7 linked regions of the Homo sapiens genome follow. The protein of the gene in region 1 purifies or fractionates together with the protein of each later gene. This does not show direct contact. Each region holds a gene or a part of one and is shown on either strand. Other genes may lie near its edges. The genes, in order: INSIG2, AFTPH, CYFIP1, ELFN2, CKAP2, PPM1B and TAGAP.

Evidence for each region.
Region 2: the proteins of INSIG2 (region 1) and AFTPH purify together in Homo sapiens (affinity purification with mass spectrometry, with the first as the bait; one large-scale study listed by BioGRID). This does not show direct contact.
Region 3: the proteins of INSIG2 (region 1) and CYFIP1 purify together in Homo sapiens (affinity purification with mass spectrometry, with the first as the bait; one large-scale study listed by BioGRID). This does not show direct contact.
Region 4: the proteins of INSIG2 (region 1) and ELFN2 purify together in Homo sapiens (affinity purification with mass spectrometry, with the first as the bait; one large-scale study listed by BioGRID). This does not show direct contact.
Region 5: the proteins of INSIG2 (region 1) and CKAP2 purify together in Homo sapiens (affinity purification with mass spectrometry, with the first as the bait; one large-scale study listed by BioGRID). This does not show direct contact.
Region 6: the proteins of INSIG2 (region 1) and PPM1B purify together in Homo sapiens (affinity purification with mass spectrometry, with the first as the bait; one large-scale study listed by BioGRID). This does not show direct contact.
Region 7: the proteins of INSIG2 (region 1) and TAGAP purify together in Homo sapiens (affinity purification with mass spectrometry, with the first as the bait; one large-scale study listed by BioGRID). This does not show direct contact.

What each region holds. Positions count from the first base shown.
Region 1 is NC_000002.12:118,098,471-118,101,970, forward strand, and holds part of INSIG2 (insulin-induced gene 2 protein), read left to right. Parts: intron 1-3,500. UniProt on the Homo sapiens protein: Oxysterol-binding protein that mediates feedback control of cholesterol synthesis by controlling both endoplasmic reticulum to Golgi transport of SCAP and degradation of HMGCR.
Region 2 is NC_000002.12:64,562,328-64,565,827, forward strand, and holds part of AFTPH (aftiphilin), read left to right. Parts: intron 1-3,500. UniProt on the Homo sapiens protein: Component of clathrin-coated vesicles.
Region 3 is NC_000015.10:22,917,869-22,921,368, forward strand, and holds part of CYFIP1 (cytoplasmic FMR1-interacting protein 1), read right to left. Parts: intron 991-3,500; coding exon 824-990; intron 68-823; coding exon 1-67. UniProt on the Homo sapiens protein: Component of the CYFIP1-EIF4E-FMR1 complex which binds to the mRNA cap and mediates translational repression. In the CYFIP1-EIF4E-FMR1 complex this subunit is an adapter between EIF4E and FMR1.
Region 4 is NC_000022.11:37,420,980-37,424,479, reverse strand, and holds part of ELFN2 (protein phosphatase 1 regulatory subunit 29 precursor), read left to right. Parts: intron 1-3,500. UniProt on the Homo sapiens protein: Inhibits phosphatase activity of protein phosphatase 1 (PP1) complexes.
Region 5 is NC_000013.11:52,465,478-52,468,977, forward strand, and holds part of CKAP2 (cytoskeleton-associated protein 2), read left to right. Parts: exon of another isoform or gene 1-366; intron 367-2,800; coding exon 2,801-2,870; intron 2,871-3,500. UniProt on the Homo sapiens protein: Possesses microtubule stabilizing properties. Involved in regulating aneuploidy, cell cycling, and cell death in a p53/TP53-dependent manner.
Region 6 is NC_000002.12:44,203,375-44,206,874, forward strand, and holds part of PPM1B (protein phosphatase 1B), read left to right. Parts: intron 1-3,500.
Region 7 is NC_000006.12:159,034,992-159,038,491, forward strand, and holds part of TAGAP (T-cell activation Rho GTPase-activating protein), read right to left. Parts: intron 3,238-3,500; coding exon 3,123-3,237; intron 2,134-3,122; coding exon 836-2,133; 3' UTR 1-835. UniProt on the Homo sapiens protein: May function as a GTPase-activating protein and may play important roles during T-cell activation.

The sequences.
Region 1 (3,500 bases):
TGGGTCCACATGTCACATGCTGGGGAAGGGAAAAGGAAGCTACTCACACTTTTCCCCCTACTCAGGATGCCACTTTTCAAGCCTCCAGACTGGGTGCCAGACCTAGATGGAATTCCCTGGCGTGTGTTGTGCATTTGGGCTGGGGCAGGAGAACTTAACTGAGGTTTCATTGTACCTCCACTATGAAGAGTAACAGGGCTGCACCTGCTGTCTTGTCCTTCTGCCCCTTTAATGTCAGCACTTTTGCCATAAACTTACATTTTAGGAAGGAAAATTTCAAATGCTAATACCACAGTTCAGCCACTACTTTCCTTCCTGTTCCCAGCCACTAGGTTTGTCACACTTACAAACTTAACCTCATTTGGGGAATTTGCATTTACATTTCTTGCTTAAGTATTTCTTCTGAAAGCAGTTTGTACCATAAGGTACTTGGGCAAAAGAAAGTAGAGAGACATTAGGAAATCTAGATTCCAGCCAATTCTGCTACCAATTTTGTTAGTTAAGTCATGGTGTTTAGTAGATGAGAGTGAAAGATATCAGATTTGTCCAAGTTGCCAGAGATGGAAAATGGATTCTCTCAAAATCTCTGCTCTGCCATCCCCTGCATCATTATTTTAGGGAAAGTATCATGGGAAAAGAAGTAAATGATTTAAGAAACATAGTGTGTTTGAGTTTGTGTGTGTATGTAATATGCATATGTTTTTGTGTATATGTGTTGGCGTGGATTTTCAAGACCTCGCTAGGGTCTTACCATCTTAAGTCAGAAAAACTGATAATCATCCTTTGATTTTCCTGTTCAACTAACATTCATAGATAGAGCAGCCACCTTTTGGAGGGGCTCCAGAATCACCACCTTCTGTGTGTAGAAAGTGCTCCTTGTTATTTGCCACCTTTCTCTATAGCACAATCCTGGAAAATTTGCTAGTGGTGGTTCTGGTGGGACAACTAATAGAGAACTTTGGTAAACTAATTTTGATGACTTTTTTTTCTTAATTCCATATTTTTAGTTTGATAATGCTGATGTTACAAGTTAACTTCCTTATGTGTGCCATGCACCAGAATTGGAATTAGAAATCTTTTCAGCATTATTGAGGGCCACAAAGAAATCTTTCTAAAGAATAAATAGAAAAAGACAACTCGTGTGGATAAAATAAGTAGAGAAGTTGCCTCAAAAATCACAAGTAGCCTGGTTGTGTCCAAACGTATGAAAATAATATCTAATGTAAAAAGAAAAGAAAAATCTTTCCTGTTTAGCTGTGCAGTCCCTTGCCCTATTCCTGTAGAGCCTTGTAAGATTCCTTGCTTTCTCTCCCGTTCTACATCCAGTTTCCAAGTCTTACATCTTTCCTCTGTCTCTTTCTTGGTCCATCCCTCAATGGCTGTGCTTGGAGTCTTTAGTCTTTGCCGGCCTCTAGTTTTGCACCCACCCTTTTCTCAGCCCCCTTGTATGGTACCCTCACTGCTAAGAAGATGGCCTCTCTCTGGTACAACAGTGATGACATTGTTTTCCTGATTGCCCATTGTCTGCAGGGTAAAGTCTTTATAATATGGCCCTTGACTGCTTTTTTCTTCTTCAGAGTCTTTCTGGACCCTGCAGCTCCCTTTGTGTCTGAAGCTTACAGCTTCCTCTTAACACCAGCAGTTTCCAGTTTTCCATGAATGTCCTCAGCCACCTCCCTTTAATGAGAGCACTATTTCTGCGCCATTTACTGCTGAATGCTCCTGCCTCAAGGGTCACCTCTTTCCGTGAAGCTTTTCTGACAGCCCAGCACCTTGCCTTCCCCTAGCACAGGCAAGGAGAAGCCTGGGACCCCTCTGTCCTGTCAGCTGCCCTTAATGCAGGATTGTATTTAATTGTTTCTGTGGTCACTTTGCAATTGGAATCGTATCTTACTCTTTTGCCTTTTTTTTTTTTTTTTTTTTTTTGAGACGGAGTCTCACTCCGTCACCTGGGCTGGAGTGCAGTGGCGCCATCTCGGCTTACTGCAACCTCCACCTCCCAGCTTCAAGCGATTCTCCTGCCTCAGCCTTCCGAGTAGCTGGGATTACAGGCGCCCACCACTACGTCCAGCTATTTTTTTGTATTTTTAGTGGAGACAGGTTTTCACCATGTTGGCCGGGCTGGTCTCAAACTCCTGACCTCGCGATTCGCCTGCCTCGGCCTCTCAAAGTGCTGGGATTACAGGTGTGAGCCACCACGCCTGGCCTTACCTTTTTAAATCTCCAGCAAATACCAAGAACCAGACATATTGTCAGGGCTTAAGTATTTGTTGAAGGAAAATATTATCTTATAGTTTTGCGTCGAAGTATACCTCATGGAGTGTTTTCGTTTATTCAGTTCCTGTTTTCTTACAAAATGTCTGACTTTAACTGTGTTCCTTTTAGTGCCTCCCTGCATTTAAGCACATTCCCATAAAAAAGTGATGACTTACTACTGATATTTTACAAACTTCTTTAGTGTTTAGCTTTGGTAGACTGTAACTAGTCACTGGGAAATAACTTAAAGGTATCACAAGAAATGTGATTTTTGCATCAGAGAACCATTTGATTTATAAGCAGGATTGTGTTTGCATATGATTTTACACAGGCATGATTTTAACAGTCTTTCTTGTTTTTTTTAAAAAAAAGTACAAGAAGAGGAAAAGAGGCCCAGACATACTCTGTTGAGCTCTCAAACAGTGGAACCTCACAGTGTTGTATATATTGCTATCAGACTCTGCCATGCCTTTATTTAAAGGAAAGAAAGAAGACATTTAATGGGAAGTGACAAGCTTCTTCGAATTCTCCCTCTCAGTGAGCAACTGAGAACCATGCATACTCAATGGATTTGATTTTTATTGGCAAATCCCAGGGTTGGCAGTGTGGCAGTTTAAATTTCTTTTTGTGTTTTTGCTTTCTCTCCTCAGTTGTCTCTCACTTGCAAGTCTGACATCACATGCATAAAAATATAGTCGATTTTACTTATTTATACCTTTGCACATACATGTCAGTATTCTCTATGTAATAATTCTTTACCTAGGCATCAGTTGCTCAGGAAAATTGACTTGGAATGTCTGCTCTTAGTTGACTTTACTCAGCAACAGGCAAAGGGAGGATATATATGGTGGGGGGATGGGGGTGACAAATGAGCTGTTAGTTTTATGACCCCTTGAGAAAAAAAGAGGTGATATTCGTTTAACTACATTTCAACTGTTAGGGATGCTTGTTGCCATTTTATTTGTATAGAAATTTTAAAATCCTGTCAGTTAATCTTGTCAGGATTTTGGAGCAGATTTTTAAATAGGAATATAGTGTGAAACTTCTAGATTTACTAATAGTTATTGGAGCTCTGCATTGCCGAGATATGTTCTTAATCTCTTGATGTTCTGTGAGCCATCTATACTCAGCACATGCCTAACTCAAAAGAGTTGTGGACTAGAAAATGCATACAGTATTGCAGCATCTCATCTCGAGATAGAAGGGTGGTCACACAGCCTTTTTCAAATGCTGCACCATTGGTC
Region 2 (3,500 bases), about 54 Mb from region 1:
AGGCGAAGTGCTTTTTTTTTTTTTTTTAATCTGGTGCACATTAATACCAACTATGTGCAGGAACCCAGGTACTGGAAATTCAAGAAAAAGACATAGTCCCTGCCCTCAAAGCTCTTGCAATTTTTAGAAATTGAACTTAGAACTGCTTTGATGACAACATAATATAGTGGTTAAGAGCACCTACACTGAAACTATACTTCCTGGGTAGGAACTCAGCCTCTCCACTTAATATTCATGTGACCACAGGGAAGTTAACCTCTTTCTGCTCTGCTTTTCTCATCCAGGAAATGGAGATGATATTATTACCTCCCTCATATGGTTCTTTTGAAACTTAAATGAGCTAAACTTTGTAAAGCATTTAGAATAATGTCTGCCACATGGTGGGCACTATGTGAGCATTAAATGAAAATTATGTTACATGATAGCAAGCTTTTGCAGCTTCTGAGTAGGTTTCAGAGTACATCTTTTGATCTTTTGCTGAATTTAGGCTCCCACTTTCCTGAACTGGGTTAAAATGATATTGTTTGCTTTACTTATACTGCCTTACGTGCCTAAGGAAACTAGAGCTCAGCCAGTGTCACTTCACCAATTCTAAATAATAAAGTATCTATTTTTTGGAATTTTACATCTAATTCAAGTCCACACGTACTGTAATATGTTAGTAAATGTCACTGTTTGATGCAACCTTTTTCTGCATTAATCTGCTACAGGGAGTTTGAAGATTTGTGTTGTGCCCCCACCTAATCAAAACCAGTAGATTTCCCATTATGGCTGCATATACTCTGTATTGAAATAGGAGTTCACATAAGCAGAGTAATATAAGCAAAGTTCCTTTGTACTCATAAGAAGAAATCCAAGTTTAATATTTTACTTTAACTAGAGTTTTGATGTGATACTGAATTTTACTACTGATTTATTTGCATATGTTAAACTATCCTTGGCTGATGTTGAGAGGATGATTGTATTGTAAAACAGATGAAAATAATATATGTACCCCCAAAAAATTTTTGAAAAACAAATTTGAAACCTTTGCCACTCTCACAGTTTTGATACACCTTTTATCCCAAGTGCTCAAATTTTATGTTCAAAATAGCAATGATTTCTTTAAAAAATTAGTGTCTGATCACAATCTGTTTGGGAAAATCTATTTCCTGAAAAAAACCTGTCTGGTCATAAGAGAAACTGTTCTTGTGGTAGGTTATTTTAACTTCTCTTCTTCTGAGTATTACATTAGTTATATTCTTGTAACTGTTCTACTTACCAAGTTATTTGGACTATGTTACATCACATTTTTGAATGTTTAACTTTATTGTGCTTCTTGGAAAGCAAAGTACTCTTTTTGAGATGGAGTCTTGCACCTCTGCCTCCCAGGTTCAAGTGATTCTCTTTGCCTGGGCCTCCCCAAGTAGCTGGGATTACAGGCACCAGCCACCACGCCCAGCTAATTTTTTTGTACTTTTAGTAGAGACACGGTTTCACAATGTTGGTCAGGCTGGTCTCGAACTCCTGACCTTGTGATCTGCCTGCCTCGGCCTCCCAAAGTGCTGGAATTACAGGCATGAGCCACCGCGCCCAGCTGAGAAGCAAAGTATTCTTAATGCCTAATGTGTGGTTTATACATTTTGTGTTTCATAATGCAATCAAGATTTAAGTCATAATGCCTGTAAGCCAACCACCAATATCCAAAATTTAAACTCTACAAGGAGTAACTATAGCAGGTTTCATTTATATAAGAGACTCTTAAAAATAGATACTCTTAAAAACTAGGTACTTTTTTTTCCCCCAACTCAATAGGATGACCTTGGGAAGGATGCAGAATGCTTAGATTATTTAATTTCTTGTTATATCATAATATGGTAGAAATTGATAAATTGAGATAAGTATTTTCATAGTGATTTAGAATGCTAAATCATGGTAGAGAAACATTCTTAGTGAGCTTTGATTCTAGTTTTGCCATTCATTTATTTCATTCCCTGGCAAGCCCCCTGTGTCTGTATGTATCATTTGTATAATAACAGTAGTAATGATAAAAGCTGCCACCTCTGACACCCTCGGTGCCAAATATTTAATCCTCTGAATTATCATCCACCTCGTGAGGTAGATAGACCCTGATATCTCCAGATTATAAATGCAGAAACTGGGCAGAAATGGTGGTAGACGCCTATAATCCCAGTTACTTGGGAGGCTAAGGCAGCAGAATCGCTTGAACCTGAGAGGCCAAGGTTGCAGTGAGCCGAGATCGCACCACTGCACTCCAGCCTCGGTGACAGAGTAAGACTCCATCTCAAAAAAATAAAAAATAAAAAATAAAATAAATAAATGCAGAAACTGGAGTCTTGGCCCCTGGATCTATAGCCCTCTATTGAAGTGTTATTATACCAGTCATTTACTTACTGGAATTAACTAGTAGTAAGTTAAATTTGGCCTTATTTATTACCCAAAACAAGATAGTGGTGAGAAACTCATTACAGGATGCCCTTACCACCAAACTGGTCTTATGGAAATTGATACACTTTTTTTTTTTTTTTAAGACCAAGTCTTGCTCTGTCACCCAGGCTGGACTACAGTGGCATGATCTCAGCTCACTGCCACCTCCACCTCTCCTGGTTCAAGTGATTCTCATGCCTCAACCTCCTGAGTAGCTGGGACTACAGGCGTGCGCCACCATGCCCTGCTAATTTTTGTATTTTTAGTAGAGACGGGGTTTCACCATGTTGGCCAGGCTGGTTTCAAACTCCTGAGCTCAAGCAATCCACCCGCCTCGGCTTCCCAAAGTGCTGGGATTACAGGCGTGAGACACTGCACCTGGCTGGAAATTGATACACTTTTAAAAATAAAATGTCAGAGTAAATTTAATAAAAATATTTGGGCTGGGCGCAGTGGCTCACACCTGTAACCCCAGCACTTTGGGAGACCGAGGTGGGTGGATCACGAGGTCAGGAGATGGAGACCATCCTGGCTAACATGGTGAAACACCGTCTACTAAAAATACAAAAAATTAGCTGGGCGCGGTGGTGGGCACCTGTAGTCCCAGCTACTCGGGAGGCTGAGGCAGGAGAATGACGTGAACCTGGGAGGCAGAGCTTGCAGTGAGCCGAGATTGCACCACTAAACTCCAACCTGGGTGACAGAGCGAGACTCTATCTCAAAAAAAAAAAAAAAAAAAGCCTTTGTTCATTCTATTAGTTGCTGAATTGTTGAGGAGTTTCCCTCCCTGTGTTGGGCAATGCTGTTAGTGGATTCTGGTTATTTATTATTTACTGCTCTACCTCAAGGGGCAAACCATGACCCACAGGACAAATCTACTGCCTGTTTTTGTAAATAAGTTTCACTGGAACATACCCATGCTTATTCCTTTACATATGGCCTACAAGGCCTAACATATTTACTGTCTGGCTCTCTATAGAAAAGATTGCTAATCTCCTGCTCTATCTTATTCAACGTAAGATTTGAAGCAATCTAATGTAATATCTGATCCTAAACATATATGAAACTTTCTT
Region 3 (3,500 bases), on another chromosome or scaffold:
TGGGTCATTGAAGGGCTCATGCCCCGTCTCCCAGTCACACACGGTCTTCCTGATGGCCTGCAGGACACTGAACACCCCACCAAGTGATCAGCAAGGCCCAGAGGCCGAGACCTCCAGCCTCACAATCACACCATCTCCTCACCCAACTACAAGGCTCTCAGAACAGCCCCCATGAAAATACAAATTACTCTGGGGGCCATGGAGGGATGTGGTAATGGACCAGCTCAACAGGAAAGTTAAAAAGGAGTCTGCCTTCTGGAGAGTATTACTACCCCCAGAAGACTGCCCTGAGCTCCAGTTCGCATCTGTTAGCCCAGGGCAGCAGTGAGGTGGCTCTGAGTCATGCTGTGGGCAGGGAGAGGGCAGAACACAGCCTCCGCACGGAGCAGAGCTGGGCCCCGCCTGCCCGCAGCTGGCTGTCCCCAGTAACCAACAGGAATGTGAAGTCACCCACATGACCAGAGCCTGGCCATGTCTCTCGACTGGTTTGGAACACAGCCTCATCACCAACAGGGCTCCACCGTGCAGAGACCCCCATAAGGCACCATGCATGAACCACAGGCACCGCGAGCCTGGGATAAATGCACCTTGTCCCGGGGTCCTCAGACTCCCTAGACACTCGGCAGCTGACTTACTGTCCATTGTTTGGGTTAATAATTGGACCCATGCATTACTTTTAGAGGTAATTCACCAAGAGGGCATCTGAAGGTTGAAGATAAATATATTGAAATCATTTTTGAGAATTTAACGCTCCTGTTGTTTGAATCCAAGTTCATCCGAGGACGTGTGGGCACAGCGGGCACAGGGCGTGGGGAAGGCTGACCTCTGGATGACGTTCTTCTTCTTCTTGATGGCCTGCCGCAGCGGCTCCCTAAGGGTCACCTGGGAGAAGTCCTGCAGTGCGGCATAGACGGTGTGCCGGATGGCGTGGTTGAACACGCTCTCCATCCTGCCCATCAGCACCTGCAGGCCTTTGATCATGGCGATCACCTGCGGGGGACACAGCAACAGGGACGGCCCTTCTTAGGGATGGCACCAAGCCTCCTCTGCCTGGCACATGCCGGGGGCTGCTCCTCCTCGCCCACAGCACCTTACGCCCTCCCGCGTTCGTGCCCTGCAGCTGCCCTGCCCCAAAACGTCTTCTCCAAAGCCATAGTCAATGGAACTGTGCCCGCATCTGACTCCCCATCAGACCATGAGCACCTGGAGGACAGGGATGCATCTGACTCGAAACACACATGCATCCACCCCAGCACACCCTCCTGTGATGGAATTCAAATAGGAAAGAAGAAAAAGACTCAGGAAAGCAGGCATGATATTACTAGAAAAAGAAGTTACAAGAGGTTGTAGTCCAAATCCCATATTGTTCACAACAAAGGCGCAGTGAACTACCATTCACAGAAAAAGCCTGGAAGACTCTGATGGAACATAATTACATGACAAAGAGCTTCCAAAGGAATTCCTGGGACAGAAAAATGGTGCCAGGGCTCATTATTTCCCTGTTTCCAGACAGTAATTTTGTCATGACAGTGTGCTTTATTACTTTCTGAATAAACAATTGAAGGTCACAAACCAAGTATGACCTTTACAATTGCATGAGCTTTCTTACGGCTTTTGCCGTTTATAAATATTTCTACAGCCAACTTCATGATAGCTATGTGAGGCCTAGAAATCTCTCTGAAAGCAGCAAGTGAGGCAGAGCAAGACACACTTACCCCAAGTCCACCCTGCCGTGTGGATGTCTGACATATAAGACACCAAAGTGGAACATTTAATAGCACCAGTGAAACATAATTCACTTCTTTTTATCTTTTAACTAGAACGCTGTACCTAAGACTAATACATTTGGGAAAATCTTAACAACCCTTCTTTGGCCAGGCACAGTGGCTCACACCCATAATCCTGGCACTTTGGGAGGCTGAGGCGGGAGAATCACTTGAGACCAGAGTTCAAGATCAGCCCGAACAAAATGGCCAGACCCCATCTCTACAAAAAATTTAAAAATTAGCCAGGTGTGGTGGCATGAGCCTATAGTCCCAGCTACTCGGGAGGCTAAGCCAGGAGGATCACTTGAGCCTAGGAGTTCGAGGCTGCAGTGAGCCATGACTATGCCACTGCTCTCCAGCCTGGGTGACAGAGCGAGACCCTGTCTCAAAACAAAACAAAACAAAAACCCTACTTCAACATCTGAAAATGGTCTTCAGTCCACAGTAATAAAAAAAAACAAAAAACAAACAAACAAAAAAAACCTTTTGAAATTAAGTATTTGACAGATTCAAAATTAAGGCAGCTTTTTTTTTTTTTTTTTTTTTTTGAGACAGGGTCTCACTCTGTTGCCCAGACTGGAGTGCAGTGGCATGATCATAGCTCACTGCAGCCTTGAACTCCCAGGGTCAATCGATCCTCCTGCCTCAGCCTCCTGGGTAACTAGTTCTATAAGCATGCACTACCATGCTTGGCTAGGCATCTTCCTACTTTTATTAAATCTGTTGGTTTGAAGTTCACTTAGCAAGAACACAAATGTGTTTCCCCAAGGCTTCACACAGTCTCCCTCTATCACTTTCTGGTTTTATTCACACCTTTTGAGTTCCTCATTATGGCTTTATAAACAGCCTGATTCATGGGTAAATGAAGACGTGTCTGACAAGTACTTGAAACATGGCTTATATGATTTTGGTGCTTTTCTTTTTCATGAAATTTTCAGGTGGAAAAGTTGACAGTCTGCTTTTAATTCATCCTTCTATAACGTAAAGAATTTCCAAATAGACTGCTTTCATGTAAGACTCATGGTCTATATGCAATTAAAATAATGAAAATTTTAGAAAGGAAAAAGTCTGGAAGAAAACGCACCCAGCTGCTCAGCGCCATCTCTGTGATGGCGCCGCAGGCACTGTGCCTTCCTAATGCCATGCTTGTGTTTTCAGCATGCTTACTTTGGAAAACTGATGATTTTATATTGTTTTTCCAATCAACAAAAAAGAAAAGTTCTATTTAAAAAACCAAACGAGGAAAAACCCATTTAAGTGAACATAACAATCCTACATATTCACACTTACAGGAAGAAGGAAAAGGCAAGTTAACAGCAAACTGAGAGCTTTAGATGCACGCATTAGAAAACTAAAAAGGATAAAAATCATAATACTTATCAAACATTCATCACTAATTTATAGAAAACAGCAAAATAAACCCCCCCAAAATCGAAGAAAAATAACTAAAAGCACCCGGGCGCAGTGGCTCATGCCTGTAATCCCAGTATTTTGGGAGGCCGAGGCAGGCGGATCACAAGGTCAGGAGTTCGAGACCAGCCTGGCCAATATGGTGAAACCCCGTCTCTACTAAAAATACAAAAATTAGCCTGGTGTGGTGGTGCACACCTGTAGTCCCAGCTACTTGGGAGGCTAAGGCAGGAGAACTGCTTGAAACTGGGAGGTGGAGGTTGCAGTGAGCTGAGATGGCGTCACTACACTCCAGCCTAGGTGACACAGCGAGACTCTGTCTCA
Region 4 (3,500 bases), on another chromosome or scaffold:
GCTCCAGAAACAGTCAGCGTGATAGGAACGGGCACACTCAGCAAGCCTTCTCCAGTGGGGCGTGTCTAGGGCGGTCACTGGGGGCTCCATGCCTGTTCCTCAATATCCCCTGAGGTCTTGTAGGATGCTTGTTTTTGGCAGCAGAATTGGGTTCCAGTGACACCCCTGCCGCATCTGCATCCTGGCTGTGTGTGACAGAGGTCAGCCTCTCCTGTCTCTGTAAGAGGGTGGTGGCAGCTTCCCTTGCGGGTGTGATGTGTGAGTGTGAAAGGGTGACAACCGTGTGCAGGGCTGGGAGGCACACATTGCTGCTACCCTCACCTGCTCCGGCCACAGTGCCTGGGGGCCAAGCTCCTCTCTCGGTGCCCCCACCTGCCCCATGTTGTGACATGTGCTGTGTGGAGTGGATGGCCGAGAAGTAGGATTGCCTCGAAACCTGACGCTTCTTAGCAAGTTAGACCTCTTCAGGAGCTGTGTTAATCGTCTAGAAGGTTTACCCAGTCCTCTGCCTCCTGCCGTCCCAGCCCAATCCCTGATTAAATTAACCTTCTCTTGGCTCAATTACCACCTGGGGCAGAGGCATTGACATTATTACTGGAGATGGTGTCTGGGGGTTGGAATAATTGAGCCCCCTCTCCTTCCCCCTAGCTCTGCCGACAGTCCCCAGGAAAGCCCCAGAGAAGCCCTGAGGACTCAAGAGCCACCTGGGCAGGCTTGCTTATGCCTGGGGTGCCAGAGGAAGGGTGCTGGCTGCACGATGCTGCTGATTGAAATAGTAATAACTATAGTGATAATAATAATAATGATATCAGCTAATATTATTGAGCCCCTACTGAGAGCCAGGCCCGGTTCGAAGCTCTTTATGGGCGGCATTCGTTTAGTCCCACAAAAGCCAGCTGCAGCAGGCACTATTATTATTCCTCATTTTGAAGACAAGAAACAGAGAGGTTACAGACCAGTCCAGGGCCACACAGCGATGGAACCAGGACTGGAACCCTCGAAGGGAAACTCTCACATCAGCACCATTGGCTGCTGAACTCCTTTGCCAGATGGGCCTGGAGGCCTCTACATCTTGGCCTACCCCTCTCACTGAAGGCCCTTTCTGGGCCTTGCTTTGCTTATCTGTAAATGGGTGCAGTGACCCTGCCCTAGGGAAGCTGGGGGTGGCGGACGCCCTTTGCTTTGGCTGCAAGGAGAGACAGGAAAGGAGGGGCCTCGTGGGTGGTGCCTGCATCTCAACCCCCCATCCCATTCCCCACAGAGATGGGACACCCCCAAAGGCAGCCCTTTGCTCCCTGGCCCTCCCACAGTGCCTCGAACAGCAGCGCTTGGAGGGCTCCCCCGGGTGACAGTGGGGAGGTTGCCCCAGGATCAGTATCTTCTTCAGGTCCCGAGTCTATCGTGGCCTCAGCTGTGGCCCCCTGGACTCCCCACCTGGCCATCTTGCTTGTGGAAAGGGCAGGGGCAGGGCTCCAAATCCAACCTCTTTTCCTCCTCGGTGTGGGTCCTGGGCAAGTCACTTCCCCCCCCCCCCCCGAGGCCCAGTTTCCTCAATATGAAGTGGGGACAAAAGTACCGAATTCTTGGTTGGGCGTGGTGGCTCACACCTGTAATCCTAGCACTTTGGGAGGCCGAGGCAGAAGGATCACCTGAGGTCAGGAGTTCGAGACCAGCCTGGCCAACATGGTGAAACCCTGTCTCTACTAAAAATACAAAAAATTATTCGGGCATCGTGGTGCATGCCTGTAATCCCAGCTACTCAGGAGGTTGAGGCAGGAGAATCGCTTGAACCCAGGAGGCCCAGGTTGCAGTGAGCCGAGATTGTGCTACTGCACTCCAGCCTGGGTGACAGAGTGAGGCTCCGTCTCAAAAAAAACTTCCCCAGTAGCTGGGATTACAGGCACACACCACCACACCCGGCTAATTTTTGTATTTTTAGTAGAGACGAGGTTTCACTATGTTGGTTAGGCTGGTCTCGAACTCCTGACCTCGTGATCCTCCCTCCTTAGCCTCCCAAAGTGCTGGGATTGCAGGCGTGAGCCACTGTGCCTGGCCAGAACAACAACAGCAACAATAAAACAACCAAAAAACAAAAAAAACGAATTCTTAACCCTTCTGGGTTGTCTTAAAGGTCATGCTAAAGGTTAGGTAAGAGAAGACCACGTGTATAACATCCTGTCTGGCATGCGAGATGCCATTATTTTCCTCCCCCTTCCCATCTGCCCCCTCCGTTCATTCCTGGCTTCCTGGAAGGGGTCTGCACTGTGCATGCATGTGTCTGTTTCTTTCCCATCCTTTTCACCCTCTGCTTTTCACCGCCTGAAGTGCATGGGTACTGCTGGGGTTGGGGGCGCCTAAGGATGCATGAAAAGAGCCTGGGTGCTGCCAGCTCTTGTGACTGTTTGTGTACACTGGTCACCACCTCTCTCAGGGGGAAGTAGGGAATGAATCCCAAGGCTGCCTGACCAGCCTGCCGTGGGCCTAGTCCCAAGACTCAGGCCTGACTCAGTTTCCCTCCTTGGCCCATCTATTATCCTTCTCCCCCTACAATTGCCCCTGAATCTTGGAGAGACAGAGGCTGTGGGGTCAGCCGACCTGCCTCACTCCCTTCCTGGCCCTTCTCATTCCCCAGTGGATTTCCTACATCTGCCTATTGCCTGTCTTATTTCTCCCACTTCATGTCAGCTCTGTGCAGGCGGAGACTGGTAGGCCCTCAAAAAATACTTATTAAACAAATTCCTTTCATCTACATGCTACCGAGGACGGATCGCTGCATTTTGCATTCAGATGGCGCGTGCACACACACCCTTATTAGCATGTTTCACCCAGGGAGAAATGCTGGGCCCCGGGGCTCAGGCAGGAACCCCCAGAGAGGAGCCCCTGCCTGGCAGAGCTCAGGGCCCTGGAGGAGAGGTGAGACACGGGAACCTCTGACAAGTGCCCAGCATGGGGTCTGCACACAGTAGGGCTTGCTTGACAGGTGATTCTTGTCCCTTTGTGACCTGACCGAGAGGGGGTTGCTGCTGCAGGCTGGAGGCCAGGTGTGGAGCGAGCCTCCCAGGCAGGGCTGGAGAGTTTGTGCCAACTTCTGCTCTGGGCTTTGCAGAATTCTCTCGATTATGCACCTGCTATGTGCCAGGCATCGGGCAAGGCGCTCTCTGTTATCTTGTTTAACTTTGGCTGGAGGATTGTGAAAGAGGTCCTGCCTACCCCTGGGTGGGGGCATGCCATATGGAGTGACCGTGTGAGCAGGGGCCCGGAGGTGGGGAAGCCCAGAGTGGATTTTGAGAAGATGAGTCTGGACATGTAGTTTGAGGAACAACCACACGGGACCATCCATGCTGCGCCAAGAAATTGAGTAATATCCTTTTTGTCAGGGAGCATTAGAATCTCTGGGTGTTCGTTAAAATGCAGATTCTTGGGCCCTGTCCACTGAGATTTTGATTGGGAGAGTGGACGAGGGGAAAATTGCAGGAACTTGCAATTTTAATGCTTTCCCG
Region 5 (3,500 bases), on another chromosome or scaffold:
TTTACTGATCTTTACAATTACAGTGTAGTAGACAATTCGGAATTAATTTGAAACACATCACAACATAACTTGAGAAAATTTTCTTTGTATATGTAGTGGTAATAAATGTTTAAAGGCTGCAAGGATTGCATTATAAAAGCTGTTTGTTGGCTTTCTAAGTCTTTTATTCCTGTATTGGGAATAATCAGATTTTAGAAAATGGATATAAGCTGAAATGTATATTTAATGAAACTTTCTGCATGAAATGTTTTAGCATATTATTGTATGCATTTCCTGGTTGGAAGTTTACTGGGAGACTGAATGTAATATTAAAATTTGTTTATTGAATATAAAGCAAAAGGGATTAAATTCGCTTTTTAAATGTTATCAAGCTCTCTTGGTTTTGTGTGAGAACTCTTTAAGAGTAAACCCGAATGTACTCATATATGTATATATATACACACATATATATACACACATATATATACACATATATATGCACACATATATACACACATATATGCACACATATATGCACACATATATATACACACATACACATATATACACATATACACATATATACACACACACATATATATATAATATGTATACACTGTATATATTGGTCCTTTCTGCATACAGAAAATGGCAATAAACCGGTTTCTCTAACATTATTACCTCTATAGTGCCTCGATACCATACTCCTTATCTCTTCTAGCGTATTGATACACAAAGTTTTGGGTATAGAATAAATCATTTCTTGAGTTTTTTGTTTGGTTGGGTTTTTGTTTTTATGGATACATGTTCTTCAAATATGTTTCCTTTTGACCAGGTTTCTCAGAAACACATTCTTGGAGATTGTTTACATAGATAATTTTTTAAAACTCCCTTTTAAGAAAGATCTATTCACCTTTGTCTCAACAAAATCAACGAACGCTATTTGACTTTTCACTTAAATAAAAAATCAGATATTCAGCAGATAGTCTGTCAGTGGCTGTCATGTGTAAAACTTTCTAGAATGGTAATTATATTTGACAGAATGCTACCTGGAGGGGAGTGTTAGGCCCCTACTACATTGTATCAGAAGGGACATTACTTAAGGCAGCTAAGGACATTGTAGCAAGGATGCAAAACTGGAGCCAAGGCTCACATAGAAAGCAATAATGTAAACAGCAAGATGTAACACCAGAGGAAAAGCTGCTGGAAAACAAGAATCAAAATTAGCCAACATGGCTGGGCACAGTAGTGGATACCTATAGTCTCAACTACTTGGGAGGCCAAGGTGGGAGGATTGCCTGAGCCCAGGAGTTTGAGTCCAGCCTGGGCAACATAGACCCCATCTCTTAAAATTAGTGGCCAGGCATGATGGTTCACGGCTGTAATCCCAACACGTTGGGAAGCCGAGGCGGGAGGATCGTTTGAGTCCAAGAGTTCAAGACCAGCCTGGGCAAGAGGGTGAGACCCCCCATCTCTGCAAAAAATAAAATTTTTAAAGTTTTTTTTTTGGTGGTAGACAGTTGTGGTCACAGCTATACGGGAAGCTGAAGTGGGAGAATTGCTTGAGCTCTGGGGTTCAAGACTAGTGAGCCATGATTATGCCACTGAACTCCATCCTGAGTCAACAGAGCAACACCCTGTCTCAAAAAAAAAAAAAAAAAAAATTAGCCAAGAAAACTGAAAGCAGGATAGCTGAGTAATTCAGGACTCAGTTCTGGAACTAAGACTGTGAATTACACCTTCCCTAATCTTGATTGTGTTGGGTGGAACATAGCAAATGCTTAGGTAAATAATGGTCACTTAGTAATTTTTTGTAAATTTTTGAATGAATGAAGTATGTTGAGATGATCAACCTTAGCTCTTCAGAGATACATTTCATAGCATATGAAACAAAAATATAACCATAGACTTAAATGTAAGAGAAAAGGAGCAAGACTTAAGTAAAATTATGGAGGAAGTTTTAAAATATGAAATTCTAGGCCAGGCGTGGTGGCTCACACCTGTAATCCCAGCACTTTGGGAGGCCGGCAAATCATGAGGTCAGGAGTTCAAGCAAGCCTGGCCAGCATGGTGAAACTCTGCCTCTACTAAAAATACAAAAAATTAGCTGGGCATGGTGGTGCCCACCCGTAATCCCAGCTACTCGAGAGGCTGAGGCAAGAGAATCATTTGAACCTGGGAGGCTGAGGTTACAATGAGCCGAGATCGCACCACTGCATTCCATCCTGGCAATAGAGGGAGACTGTCTCAAAAAAAGAAAAAAGAAAAAAAAGGAAAAGAAATTCTATCCTTCATTTTTACTCTATAAATTGGAAAAGACAGCCATTTTTCGTTTTTGGTTTTTTTGTTTTTGTTTTTGTTTTTTTTTTTTGAGATGGAGTCTCACTCTCTCGCCCAGGCTAGAGTGCAGTGGCATGATCTCGGCTCACTGCAAGCTCCGCTTCCTGGGTTCACGCCATTCTCCTGCCTCAGCCTCCCGAGTAACTGGGACTACAGGCGCCTGCCACCACGCCCGGCTCATTTTTTTGTGTTTTTAGTAGAGACGGGGTTTCACCGTGTTAGCCAGGATGGTCTTGATCTCCTGACCTCGTGATCTGCCCGTCTAGGCCTCCCAAAGTGCTGGGATTACAGGCGTGAGCCATCGTGCCCAGCCAAGACAGCCATTTTTCAATCTTAATTGTAAGTGGTCTGAGAAGCATGGTTTAAGAGCCACTCTTACTTTAAAATACAGTATGAAAATTTAATCGCGACTTGGATACCTAGTTAATGTCAGAGAAAATAAAACTTACATGGATCTGCTTTCTTCATTAAAAAAATTAAGCCTATTGAAGAGATGCGACACACGATTGTAGATATTCTAACAATGAAGAGTCAAGAAAAAGCTAATTTAGGTAAGTTTTAGTTATTTTATTTCCTTCATGTGAACTGTAGTTTTTTTTTGTTGTTGTTTTTTAACTTTTATTTTAAGATCAGGAGTACGTGTGCAGGATGTGCAGGTTTGTTACAAAGGTAAATGTGTGTCATGGGGGTTTGTTGTACAGATTATTTTATCACCCAGGTATTAAGCCTAGTATCCATTATTTTTCCTGATCCTCTCCCTCCTCCAACCCATGTGCCCCAGTGTGTGTTGTTCTTTAGCTGTCCATGTGTTCTCATCACTTAACTCCCACATGCAGTATTTAGTTTTCTGTTCCTGTGTTTGCGAAGGATAATGGCCTCCAGCTCCATCCATGTTCCTGCAAAGGACATGATCTCATTCCTTTTTATAGCTGCATAGTATTCCATGGTGTATATGTACATTTTCTTTATCCAGTCTATCATTGATGGGCATCTGGATTGATTCTATGTCTTTGCTATTGTGACTAGTGCTGCAATAAACATATGCGTGCATGGATCTTTATAATAGAATGATTTATATTCCTTTGGGTATATACCCAGTAATGGGATTACTGGATTGAAAGTATTTCTGTCTCTAGGTCTTTGAGGAATCGCCACACTGTCTTCCACAATGGTTGAACTAA
Region 6 (3,500 bases), about 74 Mb from region 1:
CTCTAAATGAAGCAATTCTGACCTGTAGATTTTTGAGACAAGCATAGGCATATGTTTGTTGCCTGACTAGCTAATGAAAACAGCATTTTCCCCAATTATAAAAAAAAGGTATATACTTACTATTGGAAAAAAAATCCAGATGATGAAGAAAATATAGAGAAACACCCAAAATTTTGCCATCCACCCTAAGTCAGCTACTTTCATTGTTGTGGTGTATATTGTTCCAGTCTTTTCTGCCTGCCTGTGAGTGTGTGTATTTTTATAAAACCGAGATGATTATACTTGTTATTCTACAGCCTGCCTTTTCCAACAATATATTGTAGAGAGATCTCCATGCCTATAAGTATTGATCTGTATCATTTTTCTTGGCTGCGTAGTATTTTATTGAAAGAATGAGGTTGTGAGGGAATAGCCAAAAAATCTATTAGGTCTGTAATTTGGACTAAGGAAAGAAGTTTGTGTTAGTAGATTAACTCACTTATCCATTGAAAGGATGCTAGTTTTTGAGAATTTTGACTCGACCCTTCTGAATGAGGTTTAAATATTTCTGGTGGTATATCTTCACTTGCTAGCTTTTATCAATTTAGAGTGATTAAATGTTCATGTTGATGGTGTTAAAAGATTCTAGATGGCATCCTAGAATCTCAGAAATGAGGAATGATAATAACAGACAAGAAGTTGGGGCCCATGATTCATTCAATGTTAATGGAAGCTGACCATCATAGTTCCTTCTAATGGAGCTGCATTCAAATTGAAATCAGTTTGGAGGTTTGAATTGAAACAAAACAGACTTAAAATTATTTTTGAACCTTTGAAAGTTACTTATGGAAACCTTCATTTCTGTTTAACTTCGTAATTTTGTCTTTCCATTTATTTGTATTGTAAAAGCAAGGGTTAGCAATAAGATCAAATATAATTACTTTGAATTTACTCAGAAAAATTGTAAGTTAAAAATTCATGGAAAGCACTTAGCGATTGCACAGTAGTTACCTGCTGTAAGAGGAGAGGAAACATTAATAAGTAGATGTTTCCCTGATAAGAGATTTAAATGAAGTCCTAGTTTTTTCTAACACCTCCATCACTTGTCATACTTTCATAATTTATAAGCACTTTTATCTTAACTCATTAAATCTTGGGAGGTTATCATAATCATAATCGTGGTAGTATTAGTAAATTATTGCTTTCTGTAAGCCAAACACTATTCTAAATACTTTACATATTTTAACTCATGTAATTTTCACAACCATATGAGGTAGTTAAGATGACGAGGTCAGGAGATCGAGACCATCCTGGCTAACGCAGTGAAACCCCGTCTCTATTAAAAAATAGAAAAAATCGGCCGGGCGTTGTGGTGGGCGCTTGTAGTCCCAGCTACTCAGGAGGCTGAGGCAGGAGAATGACTTGAACCCGGGAGGCAGAGCTTGCAGTGAGCCGAGATCACGCCACTGCACTCCAGTCTGGGTGACAGAGCGAGACTCCGTCTCAAAAAAAAAAAAAAAAAAAAAAAAAAGATAAGCATTTTTCAGGGTTGCCAGTTAATATTAATCTGTAAGTGTTGTATGACTGTGGTCAGGTATTATCCTATTTAAATTAGGTATTTAACTCGAGGGGAGAATGGGAGCTAAGAAAGCAACCCTCCCATTTTATTTGCAATGCTGGCATTTATGGTGTTTACTGCCAACTAATTTCGGGTTGCTTAAAATATGTAACTGCCACGTGCATAGCTTTTCATAACTTGTAAATGATACATACTTATTAATCCTCATAGTAACTTTCTGAGGTGAACAAAATAAAAAGTTTTTTTAATTTGCAAGTAAGGAAATGGAGGTTGTTTGATATTAAAAGATATCCATAAGTCATATACTTGGTGAGTATTGAGGCTGAGACTAGTTTTCTGACTCAAGTTTAGTATTTTTGTTAACAATATTTCCCAGAAGGGCCTGATAAAATAAAGAAGAGTGGGTGTGGGTGTGGGTGTGGGTGTGTGTGTGTGTGTGTGTGTGTGTAAGTGTCTGTCTGTTTCGGTTTTCATGGTCTGAGAAATTTTTCCCCAAGGGAAACATTAAGACTAAATTTTTTTTGTAACAAATACAGAGATGTTTGAAGTAAAGTGATTCCCCTTGATGTTTCTGCTTTCCAGTCTCATCTCACTTAGGGAACCACTGCTCATGGTTTGCTGTATATCTTTCCAAATGGTTCTCTGTGATTATTGATAGAAATGTATAAACGTAAAATAGGATTTTTTCTTTTTTTGTATTTTATAGAAAAAGATCATGCTATGTTTGTTACTTTGTCACCTGTTTTGTTTTTCTTAAATTATAAAAGTCGGTATTCTTTTAAATTGTTCTTTTAAAACATTATTTGATTTTCCAAAATTTCATTTATATACCATCTACCAGAAGCCTATTTATTTTAAAACATGAGATAGTACCTCATAGTTGGATAAAATTGAGGGAAATTATCATTTTCCAAAGGCAACATCATTCTATATTAATTTATATAACATAGAAAATGTAACCCCCTCAATAATTGTTTAGTTCTAAACTCAGGAGAATTGCTTGAACCTGGGATGCAGAGGTTGCAGTGAGCTGAGATCGCGCCATTGCACTCCAGCCTGGGCGACAGAGTGAGACTCCGTGTCAAAAAAACAAAAACAAACAAAAAACTGTATCAGATTGTTTTCTGTTTAAGTTTAGATGCCCTTATTTATGGCAGGGGCACTGGCGTCTTTGATCTGGTACTATGATTATTAAGAGTGTTAACTGCTGTGCTGTTGTAAAAAGTAAAAAGAACATGTAATAATCAATTTTTATATGCAGAGCTAATTTCTTTAGTTATCCAAACTGGATTTAGAAAAAAAAATGTTTTATTTATGGACTTAGTGAAAACTTTATACTGATTATACAAGGATGTTTTGTCTCTAAAAAACAATGGCACAAAGGAAAGGACCTTTTCTGTTGCTGTATAACAGCTACTGAAACATATTCATACTTGGTGTTTAGGGGAAAGCCATCTTTACATAGAAATAGAAGCAAGCCAGGCAAGGTGGCTAAGAAGCAACATCACTGAAATCACACATGCCTGAGATGTAAATATAAATTATTTCCCTTAAATGTCTTTGGAGAACCATAAATTTATTGGAACTCTCTTTCAATTAATTTTCCAAAAGTATTTATATTTTATAACTTACAAAAATCGAATGGAAATTAGATAAGGAAATGTTCCACAATGCTCATGTTGTTGTTACCAAAAACTCAAAAGGGTTAAAAGAAATTAGATTTCTAAAAGTGTAAGGTGTTAATTCCGTTTATGCATAAAATTGCTTTATAAAGTGTAATTATGCTTGATTCTTTTTTTGTTGTTGTGTTTTAGAAAGGGTGTCTCACTGTGTTGCCCGGGCTAGTCTCAAACTCCTGGCCTTAAATGATCCTCCTGCCTCAGCCTCCCAAACTGCGGGGATTACAGGCAGCCACCATGCCCAGCTGTTTGATTCTTGAATA
Region 7 (3,500 bases), on another chromosome or scaffold:
TTTTTACTTTCAAATAAGGAAGGCAATTTATTGTAGTGAAATTACATTGAAGTTTTATATATGACCCCCAATGCATATAAAATCATTTACCTCCACATTATAGGATAGGATATCATGAACTACAAAGATACTCAAAGTGCTATAGATGAGTTAATATTGATGTAATACATTTTCATTAATCTACCCACATTTAATTGGATGATTGAAAGGACACGTTGAAGTGTTTTTCATGATTTTTGCTACGGCCCCAGCTTTTACTGGAGTTTTTAATGCCTTTGATGACTCCAGACACTCAACTCTGTTCCTTGCAGTCTGTTTCTTTCTTCTATGGTGGTGATTAGTTATTGCAAGACTGCTTATATAGAGTAATATATAGTTTACTCTGGTATGGAGTAAACTTATACCAGAGATTTAAACATTTCTCCCTAAATGGAGTTTGTGGAAGATGTGAAAATTGGCATGACATTTGAGGCCACATTAAAAAAGCGAAGATAATTTTTAAACACTAACCAAGAGAAAAGTGCCCCAGGAAGCAAGGAACAGCAGTGTACTTCACTGCAAGTTCAAAACGTGTGCAGGGATTATTAGACATCCTTTGCACCTAACACCTTATCTATAATACATTTGATACATTTTTACATATTGCACAAATCCAGGTACACAGAGACTATCTGATGCGCCATGGCCATGGTGTAGCTATCCTCACTGAGGAGGGCTTTCCACAACTTTCTCAAGGAGCTTATTCAAGACCTTTTAAAAACAATCTACAGGCAGTTCTTTACAAGTCTCATATTTACAGATAGCACAAGCTATGGCATGGCGTATGGCCTCCCTCCTAAATATACGATTCTTTGGCATATTGGAATTGGTCAGCCTCAAAGACCGGCTGGCTACATCGTCGCACGAGACAGTCCCGCTTATTCCTCTGCACGGACTCGGAGACGGTCCTCAGCGGGAGGAGCTCAGGTCTCCCTGGGCCAGACACGTGCCCCAGAGAGTCCCCAGAAGCATGGACAGTTCTGCTCTGTTTCCATCGCTCAGGCAGGGGAGAGAGTCCGTGGCCAGGGAGTGGCTCTTTGCTGCCCCTGTGTCTTGAGTCCTCTACGTGGTGAGCAGGTGGAAGAGGGGGTAGGAGGCAGTGCGCCTCCAGCATCCTCGCCCTCATGCTCCCCACCGTCATGCTCCCCACGGTCTGGCTCTCGGAGGCCACTAGTCTGGCTGCCGGGCCCTGCATGGCCTCTTCATAAGAGGGTGGGCTTCCAGGCCTCTCCCAGTCAGCTCCCTGGAACACATCATCCACCGAGAGGGCGTGGGGTCTCAGGCAGAAGCCGCGGGCTGTTTGGTTGTGGGTTTCACACCCATTTTCCTGCACGATTCGGCCGGCAAGCTGGCTTTCCTTTCTGACACCCCTCGGGACGTGGTCCCTGGTAAAGTCTTGCGATTTCCCAGAGCCCGCGCTGAGGTTTTTGGTCAGCACTTTTTTGTGAGGGGCAAAGGTGAAAGACATGGAGTGCTTTTTAATTTCTCGGCTGGGCTTGCCTTTCTCTGTCTTTGTGGTGAAAGACTGATGTCTGCTGAAGAAATTTCTTTTGGGACTGGAAGGAGAAGCCACGGGCGAGCTGTCAGAGGACGCGTCCAGCGAGCTGCTGGAGAAGGCTTTGAGAACCAGTGCCCGCGGGAGCACCGAACCCGGGGCCAAGTTCTTGATCTTCAGGTCCACCGGCCTCTTGGTTTTGCCTTGCACTGCAGGGAAGACCTCCTCTGGAAATGGGTCTTCAGCCTCCTCACTTTCCAAACGAGAGCCTACCCGGGGCACGGGGAAGTCCCCTTCACTCTTTGTTAGTGTTTGGTTTGTCACCCGGCTCTCGAGGCACTCCTGGGAGGATGGCATGCTGGGCTCTGAGTATCTCCTATCGGGCTGTGCGAGGGAGCTTTTCAGCCTGGCCACGGTGCTCACAATGGGCTCTGGGCTGACCTCTCGGGCATCCTGTGGGCCCGCGCTATCCAAGCCAGCAGCTGTGGCCATGGGCACCTGGGGCTGCCTGCTGGGAGAGCTGATGCCACTGCTGCTGTTGGATTCCACATCAGGGTCGTTGCTGTCGTAGGCTGAGTCATTCTGCAGGGTCGACACATCTGGGGGAAGTCAAGCAGCAGTTGAACATTTGTTTGGGTTTATTTATTTATTTATTTTTATTTGTATTTTTTATTTTCATTTTTTGAGATGGAGTCTCGGTTTGTTGCCCAGGCTGGAGTGCAGTGATGTGATCTCGGCTCACTGCAACCTCTACCTCCCGGGTTCAAGTGATTCTCCTTCCTCAGCCTCAGTAGCTGGGATTACAGGTGCCCGCCACCATGCCTGGCTATTTTTTCTATTTTTAGTAGAGACGGGGTTTCACCATGTTGGCTAGGCTGTTTTTGAACTCCTGATCTCAGGTAATCTGCCTGCCTTGGCCTCCCAAAGTGCTGGGATTATAGGCGTGAGCCACCACACACGGCCATTTAGGTTCTTTTAGAAATGAACTTTGCTACAGTTCGCCCTGCTCATACCAATCAGGGCACTAGGTGATTTATTAGCAGAACTACTTAGGGGCTTGATATGACAAGAAATGTACCACATGAAAAGTTTATTTCTTTCTGAATTTATTTTGAGATCAGAAGAAAAATAGGGAAAGGAAATGAGTAAAGGAGGGAGGAAGGAGAGAAAGAGAGGAGAGAATAAGAAAAGAGAGAACAGCATTTCACTGAAAATGTATTGACCTTAATTTTTAAAACTGCTCCTTTTACTGGACCCATTTTCATTGTGATGGAGTCATATCCCATGAAGTGGAAACAAAAGTTTCTCACTCCAACTCCAGAGCTAAAGGTAGCTTAGTGAAATCAGCAGTGATTTGCGATGTACACTGGGAAGGGGGAAAGACTATCTGTGGTCTGAGGAGGCGCTGCAGGAAAAGCCCGGAGCAGGGTTTTCATGTTTAATGACTTCCTAATGGACTGGAGTCTAGTCTGACTCGGTGATTTGTGAAGGTAACTTCTGCCTCAAATATCAGAGATGCTTTACATGACTGGCAGACTGGCATGAACTTTTCCCTACAATCGTAATCAAATGATAGCACATTCCATACCTGAACTGTCAGTGTGCTCCAGGGAGTCATCAGAAGTGATACTGGAATGCACTGGAATGTTCTCCCCAAATATTTCAAAGCAGTTATCAATGAGGAATTCCACCAGTGTCTTCACCTGTGAGGAAAAGTAAGCAATTTGTCAGCTTGAAGACTTTTTTTTTTTTTTTTTTTTTTTGGAGGTGAGGAAGAATGGGGACACTGGAGTCAGGTGCCAAAATGAGAATCTGAGATCTTTATGTGTCTGAAAAGAGCATACAGAAATTTGGTAACAATCAGATACTTTTTTTTTTTTTTGAGACAGGCTTTCACTCTGTCACCAGGCTGGAGTGCAGTAGCCTGATCTCAGCTCACTGCAACCTCTGCCTCCCGGGCTCAAGC